Linked DNA regions of Homo sapiens: region 2 is linked to region 1. Evidence: fine-mapped expression QTL. Tissue or cell type: prefrontal cortex. Region 1 holds a variant in brackets; the other region holds the start of a gene. All regions are shown on one strand. Distances are between the middles of the regions.

Evidence for each region. PIP is the estimated chance that this variant, and not a neighbour inherited with it, causes the effect.
Region 2: RBM22 starts here. The variant in region 1 is fine-mapped to the expression of RBM22 in prefrontal cortex (BrainSeq, PIP 0.95).

Annotation. Positions count from the first base shown.
Region 1 is chr5:150,898,293-150,902,557 of GRCh38, forward strand. It overlaps ZNF300 (zinc finger protein 300), which reads right to left. Exons shown (of 6, transcript NM_052860.4): 4 at 136-262. It also overlaps a transcript of IRGM not described here. Among named protein-coding and RNA genes, the nearest start is that of ZNF300, 4.6 kb to the right of the region's middle. The variant CAT/C (reference allele first, on the strand shown) is at 2,100.
Region 2 is chr5:150,699,040-150,703,039 of GRCh38, forward strand. It overlaps RBM22 (RNA binding motif protein 22), which reads right to left and starts at 2,023. Exons shown (of 11, transcript NM_018047.3): 1 at 1,893-2,023; 2 at 1,405-1,458; 3 at 203-232. The coding sequence starts at 1,946. RefSeq lists enhancers at 1,265-2,041, 2,042-2,818.

The DNA.
Region 1 (4,265 bases):
GGCATAACCTCCATTTGCAAAGGTATGAAGGTCATAAAAGTCATGACATATGTCAGGAACAATCTAATCACAGCAACTAGTAAGGAAAGGCACTTGATTGGACAACTCTGAGTTATTCAGGGAAGCCATCCTTACCCATTGAGACCAGGTGGCTGTAGTTCTCCAGCATCACATCCCTGTACAGGGTCCTCTGAGAAGGGTCAAGTTGCTGCCACTCCTCCTGGGTGAAATCCACAGCCACATCCTTGAATGATACTAACCCCTGTAATAGTAAATTCCTGTTCAATCTGAAATGATCATTCTCATAATTTCTGCTATAATGTGCACAACTACATCCACACCTAGTTTTGTATAATAGTTTTTGGGAAAAACAAAATAAAATCCTGTTTTTAGCAAGCAGAGCCAGGCATATGAGGAGAAAAAAAGAGGTAAACCATAAAATGCCTACCTAATACATATAGTAATTTCATACATTTTAAAGGCAGCATCCAAATAACTGGGAGGAAGATGGATTATTGGATGAATCGTTTTGAAACAATGAATAGTAAAGAGGAAAAGAATAATGCTGAAGAAATATTATGGGTTGAGTTGTATCTCCTGAATATTTATATGTTGAAGTCCTAACCCCCAGTACCTCAAAATGTGATATGACTTGGAAACAGGGTCATTGCAGATATACCTAGCCATATGAGGTATTTAGGGTGAAACTGAATCCAATATGATCTGTGTCCTCATCCAAAGGGGGAAATTTGAACACAAAGACATGCATAGAGGGAAGATAATGCAAAGAGAAAAAAGAAGATAGTTATAAAGAAGCCAAGGAGAGAGGCATGAAACAAATACATCCCTCACAGTCCTGAAGAACAACCTTGATTTTGGACTTCTAGCCTCCAGAACTATGAGACTAAATTTCTATTGTTTAAGCCACCCAGTTTGTGGTACTTTGTCACAGCAATCCTAGCAAACCAATACACTATATAATACCTGGGAAAAAGAATAGATTCTGATGGAATAAAAATTTAAACTCTAAAAAGTACTAAAGGCCATAAAAGTAACAAAATAAGACACAGGAGAATTTTAATTAATGATTATAGAGCAGAAATGCCCTTTGTAAGTACATTTTTTTTTAAAAAAAGAAAAGCTACATTTAGAGAATCATAGAATGTCAGAGCTCTAGAAGATCATTAATCTAATCTCTTTATTTCATAGGAAAATGATCTTAGCTTCCCCCAAATGTAATAGCTTTCTTATATACATACAATAGTTAGTAATAGAATGAATATACCAATTACAGTAGCAACAAAAAATAAGGAATCCCAAATGATAAACTCAACAAAAATGTACAGAAAACATTAATGAAGAAACCACAACAAATTAGTGACATAACATCAAAAATGAATTTGGGTAAGAGTAGAGTTATAAAATGTTTCTGGAGGGAACATTGACTATTTTAATTATGTCACCATTATCCTCACAATAGTTGTTAACTAATAGCAGAAACTAATCTAATAGTGATCTGTATTATTTTAAATAAATTGTTCAGACTTTTTCCCCAAATATTCCATAATTACCAAACACCACTTTCAGAATGAAAATGATTATTTCAAATGTCAACATTGCCTGCTTAAAAGCCTCCTTTGTTTTCTTCTTTGCTAACACAGTCTCATCTCAGTCATCTCAAATCTCAAGCTTTCTCTCATCCCACACCAATTCCATATTCACTCTGTCAAGCTGCCAAACAGTTAGTTGTCCATAACAATCCTGTTAATTTTCCTATTGTACATATAAGAAAACTGAGGATTACAGTGGTTAAGTAAATACTTGCCAAAGATGATTACATACTAAATATATGATTGATGAACTCTCTTATCTGCAAGATTTATTCTCAATAGTCTAGGTTCTTGACTACTGCAGTCCAAACTGCCTCCCTGATACTGTAAACATCATGATCTTTTATATTTTATCACTTCAATACCAACCTTAGTCGACCTTTCCATGAAGCACTCTCCATTTTAGTTTCAAAATTCTCAGCCTTCCTAAAATCACTCTGCCCTTTCTACTTTTACAAATGCTGCTTCCTGTCCTCAGCCTACTTCCCT[CAT/C]GAGCCAAAGTTCAATAATCATTTAAGCCTATTACCTACTTCCTTAGAAATCTGGTTGTTCCCCCCTCTCTGCTATAACAGTACCTGCTCCCATGTCTGCTACAGAACTTTTATGTGTTAATGTTAGTTTCTACATCTCTTTACATCTCTGCCGATGTGTTAATGTTGGTTTCTACATCTCTTTTTTCTCTGCAGTCCTTCCAGAAGAAAACTATACGTAAATCTGCTCAGGATATTCAACAGCTAGCCAGTGCATATGACATATACTGGGTACTTAAGAAACGTTTGTTAAATGAATCATGATTATAAAGAAAAAATAAATTAAAACTTATGTTTAGTTAAACACTGTTTTGTGTATTAGTCTAATTTGTTTTATCTGAAGAAAAGTAACATAAGAAAGATAATAAATGTGGAATACAGAGGAAATCCATTCTGAGAGGTAAATTCATAGATGTTATCATTCTAACATTCTGATTTTGCTTTATTAATGATACCCAAATGCTTCAAAATAATAAGTAGGTATAAATTTCTTAATTTTGAGGAAAATATAGTACATAATCAGTGAAAAATTATACTTTTGTCAACTACAAACAATTTTTACAGCTCAGGTCCCTGGGGAAATGGAAGTGCTATTAAGTGATGGAAGAAATGAAAGGGAAGTAGGTGTTAAAGGCTGAAAAGGAGGATATGTGTAAAAACGACTTCACTTCTGGATGGTAGGGAACTAATATACAGCCCTCTTCCTGAAGGAAGAAGCATTTAATCAACTAATTAGCCACAGCAGTTGGATTTACTGGGCTAAGTAAAAAATCCATTCTCCCTCAAAGCAGTGCTGTGTAACAGAAATATAAAGCTAACCAGATAGGTAAGTTTACATTTTCTAGGAACCACATTCAAAAAATTATTTTCAATAATATACATTTATTCCCATATATTACTCAAGATATCGTTTCAACATGGAATCCTTAAAAACTACTAGTGAGTTTTTTGGAAATATAACTTTGAAATCTGGTATGTACTTAACATATCTCAATTCAGACTAGCCAATTTCAAGTGTTCAGTAACCACATTTGGCTGATGGCTACTATATTAGACAGCACGGCTCTAAAACAAAGCTACTGAAATCCAAAAACAAAAACAACAATGAAAAAATCTTTTTGCAATAGAACTCTAAACTCTACTGTAAAATATACACAAGGACTCCTAATGTAAAAGCTGATTTCAAGATTTCACAACGATAATCATAATGATGATGTAATAACAGCTGACACTTAAATATATCAGTACAAACCATGCCCCAGTTATGGTTTTAAGCATGGTTTTTACTCAATTCTCACAACAACCCTATGGGGATTATAATCTCTATCTGTAAGATGAAGAAACAATCCCAGGCAACCAGGCCACAAGGAAATATTATGCATCTGATAAAATAGTAAAGGAGAATTCTATGTACTGATATGGAAAAAGATATTCTAAGTGTATACAAAAGACCTTTATATTGGACAGTAAGTTAAAAATCAGGTTGCAGAACAAAATATTTACTATAACCTTCTTTTTCCAAAAGAAAAGCGCAAGAAAATAAGAGACATTCTCACACATTTGTACTTCTACATATAAACTGTTAATCAATCACAGTTATATTCATATCAAAAAAGGTTTGGAAGGTTAGAAGCAATGGTTAACACTGATTATCCTGGGAGAAGGTGAGTTTAAGTTAAAAGGTCTCTCTGTTTTAAATTTTTATCTTTTATATAATTTTAAATGTTTATATGCCAATGCTGGCAGAAAGAAAAAATAATACAAACTTTTAAAAATGGGAGAGCAAAGAAGGAACAGCCTTGAACTTGACACTAATCCTACAAATTCTGAAAGCACAGCAAAAGATATGGAGCATCAGGGACCTTTGCCCTCCAAAGATTTGCCAGATAAATATAATTTAAGAATGGCTTTTTTGAGAGAAATACATAGTTTAGAAAAACATTCAAAATGTGCCTATCTTACGTTAATGAATTTACCTGTGGATAAAGCTGGACAATAGGAAGCATCTGTAATCAATTTGTTCCTTGAAAGCAGGGGTCAACAAACTTTTTCAGTAAAGTTTACATTTTTGGCATTGCAGGCCATACGGTTTCTGTTGTAACTACTCAACTCTGCCATTGTAGCT
Region 2 (4,000 bases), 200 kb before region 1:
GTAAGAATCTCTACATTAGAGGGTTCATTTTCTTACCTCCCACATAAACAGTTGCCAGCCAATGAATATATCAGTAATACATAAAAAGTTGTATAGCACTGATTTTTACTGGAAGACCTCAAAACTTAGTAAGCTGAAGGCTAATTTGGTAGAGAAAAGAAAAATGAAACAGAAATCATTACTCTTTAACAGACATACTTACTTTGCATTCCTTCCCATACTTTTCTTTGGTCTATAATAGAAAAAAAATAGAAAAGAACTGGAGTTACAGAAAGAAAAAAGCCAGATGTCTACTCTTTCCTTAAACATAACCCAAGAAATGTGTCTGGAAATCCCTGGCATCCTAGAGAGAGAAAAACAGCAACAACAAAACCCAAAACCCAACCTTTTTTGGGAAGAGGGTAGGGAACATACTATAACAACATATTATAAGTGATAACATCTCAAGAGTATATGGATCTGGGCTGGGTGGCAGTGGCTCACGCCTGTAATCCCAACACTTTGAGAGGCCAAGGTGGAAGGATTGCTTGAGCCCAGGAGTTCCAGACTAGCCTGGGCAACATAGCGAGATGCTGTCTCTACAGAAAAAAGAAATAGAGTATATGCATCTAATGCTAGGTAAGTGAGTGTCTTTCCACAGCCACAACTCTTAGGTTCATTTTTGGCTCCCAAGTTCACTCCCAAGAACTAACATTCCTAATGCTTTCCACAATCCCTAAATCAGAGAGGATACAGCTGTGGCCCGCCCACTTTACAAAGTTTAGTCAAAAGGTAGCTACTGTAGACTTGTCCTGTGCCAATGCCCGGAATATAGTAAATGTTCTGTTTAAACAGAACTATTCAAACATCTTGAACCATTCAAACATCGTGAACATACTAACATATCAACACCTCTACGACTACACAATAATACAGCCCTAACCTTATTATTGTTAACTGGTTCTAATTTTACCCTAGTTTGTAACAAAGGGGGAATGCTTACTTTAAAGAGATAAAGTACACTGGCCAAAAGGCATTTGACCAGGATTCAGGAAACCTAGTTTCTAGTTCTGGTTCTCCTCCTATCATGCTGACATTCCTAGAGCCAGAATATGTGAACTTAAATCCCAGCTCCATTCCTTACTATTGTATGAAAAGACACAAACGCTCTCACCTTCTGGTCAACAGACCTATTTCCTAGGTAAATGCTCAACAAATACTAGCTATCGTTATTACCCCTACATTACAGGAGTGTTACCGGATTCGTAAGAGAATACACATGACAGTTCTTTGCAAGTCGTCCAGCACTTCGCGTTAGTAAAAGAGCATCATTTTTTCTGCTTGTCTAAGAGAAACACTTCACAGTGTGCAAGTACCACAACATCGACAGGACATGAATAACTCGTTTCACACGCGATCACTCACCATTCGGATATATGGGTTTTCTCCAAGACATGTCTGGCACAGAATGGGGAAGTCCTGGTGAAAATGGGAAATCTGGTTGAGGACCACCCTCCGAAGACCCTGACACCTCAGTGACACTTGGGGTGGCGAGGGGGCGGGAAGCGAGGGTGGGGAACTAGGCACGGCAGGAACCCGAAGTCCATCACGACCCGATCGCGGGAGGGGGCGCTGTCTGCACTTCCGGCAGGCGGCGGGAGAAAAGAAAACCAGCTCTAATAGGCTGGAGGGGGCAGGGATGGAAAGGGTGCTGGTCCCGGGACCCTGGCTAAGCCCCCTCCCTTCAAGCCCGCAGGAGGATCGCCCTCCGCCCTCCTGCTCCGGCCAAGCTAGGCCGCCGCGCTGGCTCCTCCCCGGTATTCCTTCGGCCGCGCCGCAGGCCCTGTCCTGCCAGCTTGCAAGGTGCGCGGCTTCGCCTCCTCCTTCCATCCTCCTCCGGCAGGCACACTCACCGCATCCTCCCAGTTCTGCCTGTTGTAGGTGTTGGAACCCAGAGAGGTCGCCATCTTGAGAGCGTCCGGAGGTAGCTGTAGCTTCCGAATTGGGAGAGAGGACCGCCACAATCCCGTCAAGCCCCGAGGCTAGCGCCGCGCCGGTCGGCGTCTTATTTACGCGTCTAGGGCTTCTTCCGGGGCGGGGCCTTTGCGTCATGACGTCGCCCGCTCTTGGAATTTCTAAGCTTAACAATTGGGGTCCTGGTATAATGCACCTGGATGCTTCCTTCGAGTTTTTGCCTGCTTGGAATGAAGGGCCACACGTACAGTTGATTCATTTAACAATTGGGCGAAAGAATAAAGGAAGACGTAATGCATCAGAGGCTGGGGTTAAAATAGCGTTCGCTACCACTGAGGCGCTTATTATGCCAAACTCTGGGCGAACGTCTTGCGGTTCCAGTGTCTTATTTATTCGCATAACCTCTCTGTAGGGCTCTCTGTAGGGCTGCCAGATTCTGATTCTGTCTCTCTCTCTCTCTCTCTCTCTCTCTCTCTCTCTCTGTCACTCACACACACACATGCACACACACACACGCACGAATTACAGAACGTCTAAAGTTGAATTTCAGATTAACGGCGAATCGCTTTTTAATTATAAATATATATGGTACCTACTCGTCCTAAAGTAGGATTCGTGGTTGACCTGAAATTCACATCACTTAACCAATCGTCCTGTATTTTATCTGGTAACTCTACCCTGTAGGCAAGTATGATGATCCCTCTTTTATAGAAAAGAAAACAGGTTTAGAGAGATTAACCTAATCTCTCCTGATATAGCTCCTGGTTGTGGAGCTAAAAAGTGGTGAAGCCACAAATTCATTAGTACTGTTTCATTTCCAGCTTCTGAAATGACAAGGGTCTTACGAATCAACATATGCATTATTTGATTTTTGGAATAACTCATAACCACTCTGCCAATATTTTATGAGTTTCAAGCCATTCTGGTACCACTTTCATACTTACCGTGTCATCAAGCTACCTAACACATTTATTTAAATCACCTCATTAAAAAAAAAAGTTGATTTAAAGTATAATTTACATAAAGTTTTATCCTTTTTAGTTTTGAATTTTGTACATACATTCACTTACAGTCAAATATGGAATTGTCTGTCATCCCCAAAGTTCCCTTGTTTCTGTAGTTAGTCCACTTATCCCATACTCAAACCATGGCAATCACTAATTTGTGTTCTGTCCCTAGTTTTGCCTTTTCCAGAATGTCACATAAGTGGAATCCTATATATCCTTTTGGATCTGATATTTTTTCACTTAGTATTTTGTAGTTGAGATTCATCCATATTATTACATGTATCAATAATTTCTTCCTTTGTATTACTGAGTAGAATTCCATTGTATGGATATATCATACAATTCACTTGCCAGTTGCTGGATATTTGGGTTGTTCCCAGATTTTAGTGAATATAAATAAAACCATTATAAACATTCACATACAGATCGTTGTATGGACATTGGTTTTCATTTTGCTTGTGTAAATGCCTTAGAGTGAGATTATTTGATCATATGGTAAGTATATCTTTTCCTTTATAAGAAAGTCCTTGGGTTTATCTGAGCTTCTTGGATCTGTGATTTGTTGTCTTTTATTATATTTGGAAAATTCTCAAGTATCATCTCTTCAGACTGTCTTCTGCCTGGTTTCTACATCTGTGACTCCAATTTCACATGCCTTGTGAGGAGTGCAAGGTCAGAAATAACAGAGTCCACGTACATTTGTGTTTTTCCACAATGCCAGACTTTTACTGATGCTATTTCAATCACAAAAGCCACGAACTACATGGAGTTTCCAAGAAAGCAATTCTCCTTAGTACTTCCCACTCACTCAGCACTCAGAGTCTTGGACACACAGGCTCAAGGCACTCCACAGGTCAATCAATATTGCAAATCATGCATAATGGTATACTTAATCAACATATATATTATAGAGTGAACATTCCACAAACAAAATAACATTTAACATTAAGAGAAAAGAGATAGGACCCTTTTCTCCTTTAAGTCTGGAGCCCTCAGAATCATCTCCTTTCCTTCCTTTTTCCCTCTTTCCTCCCCCAATT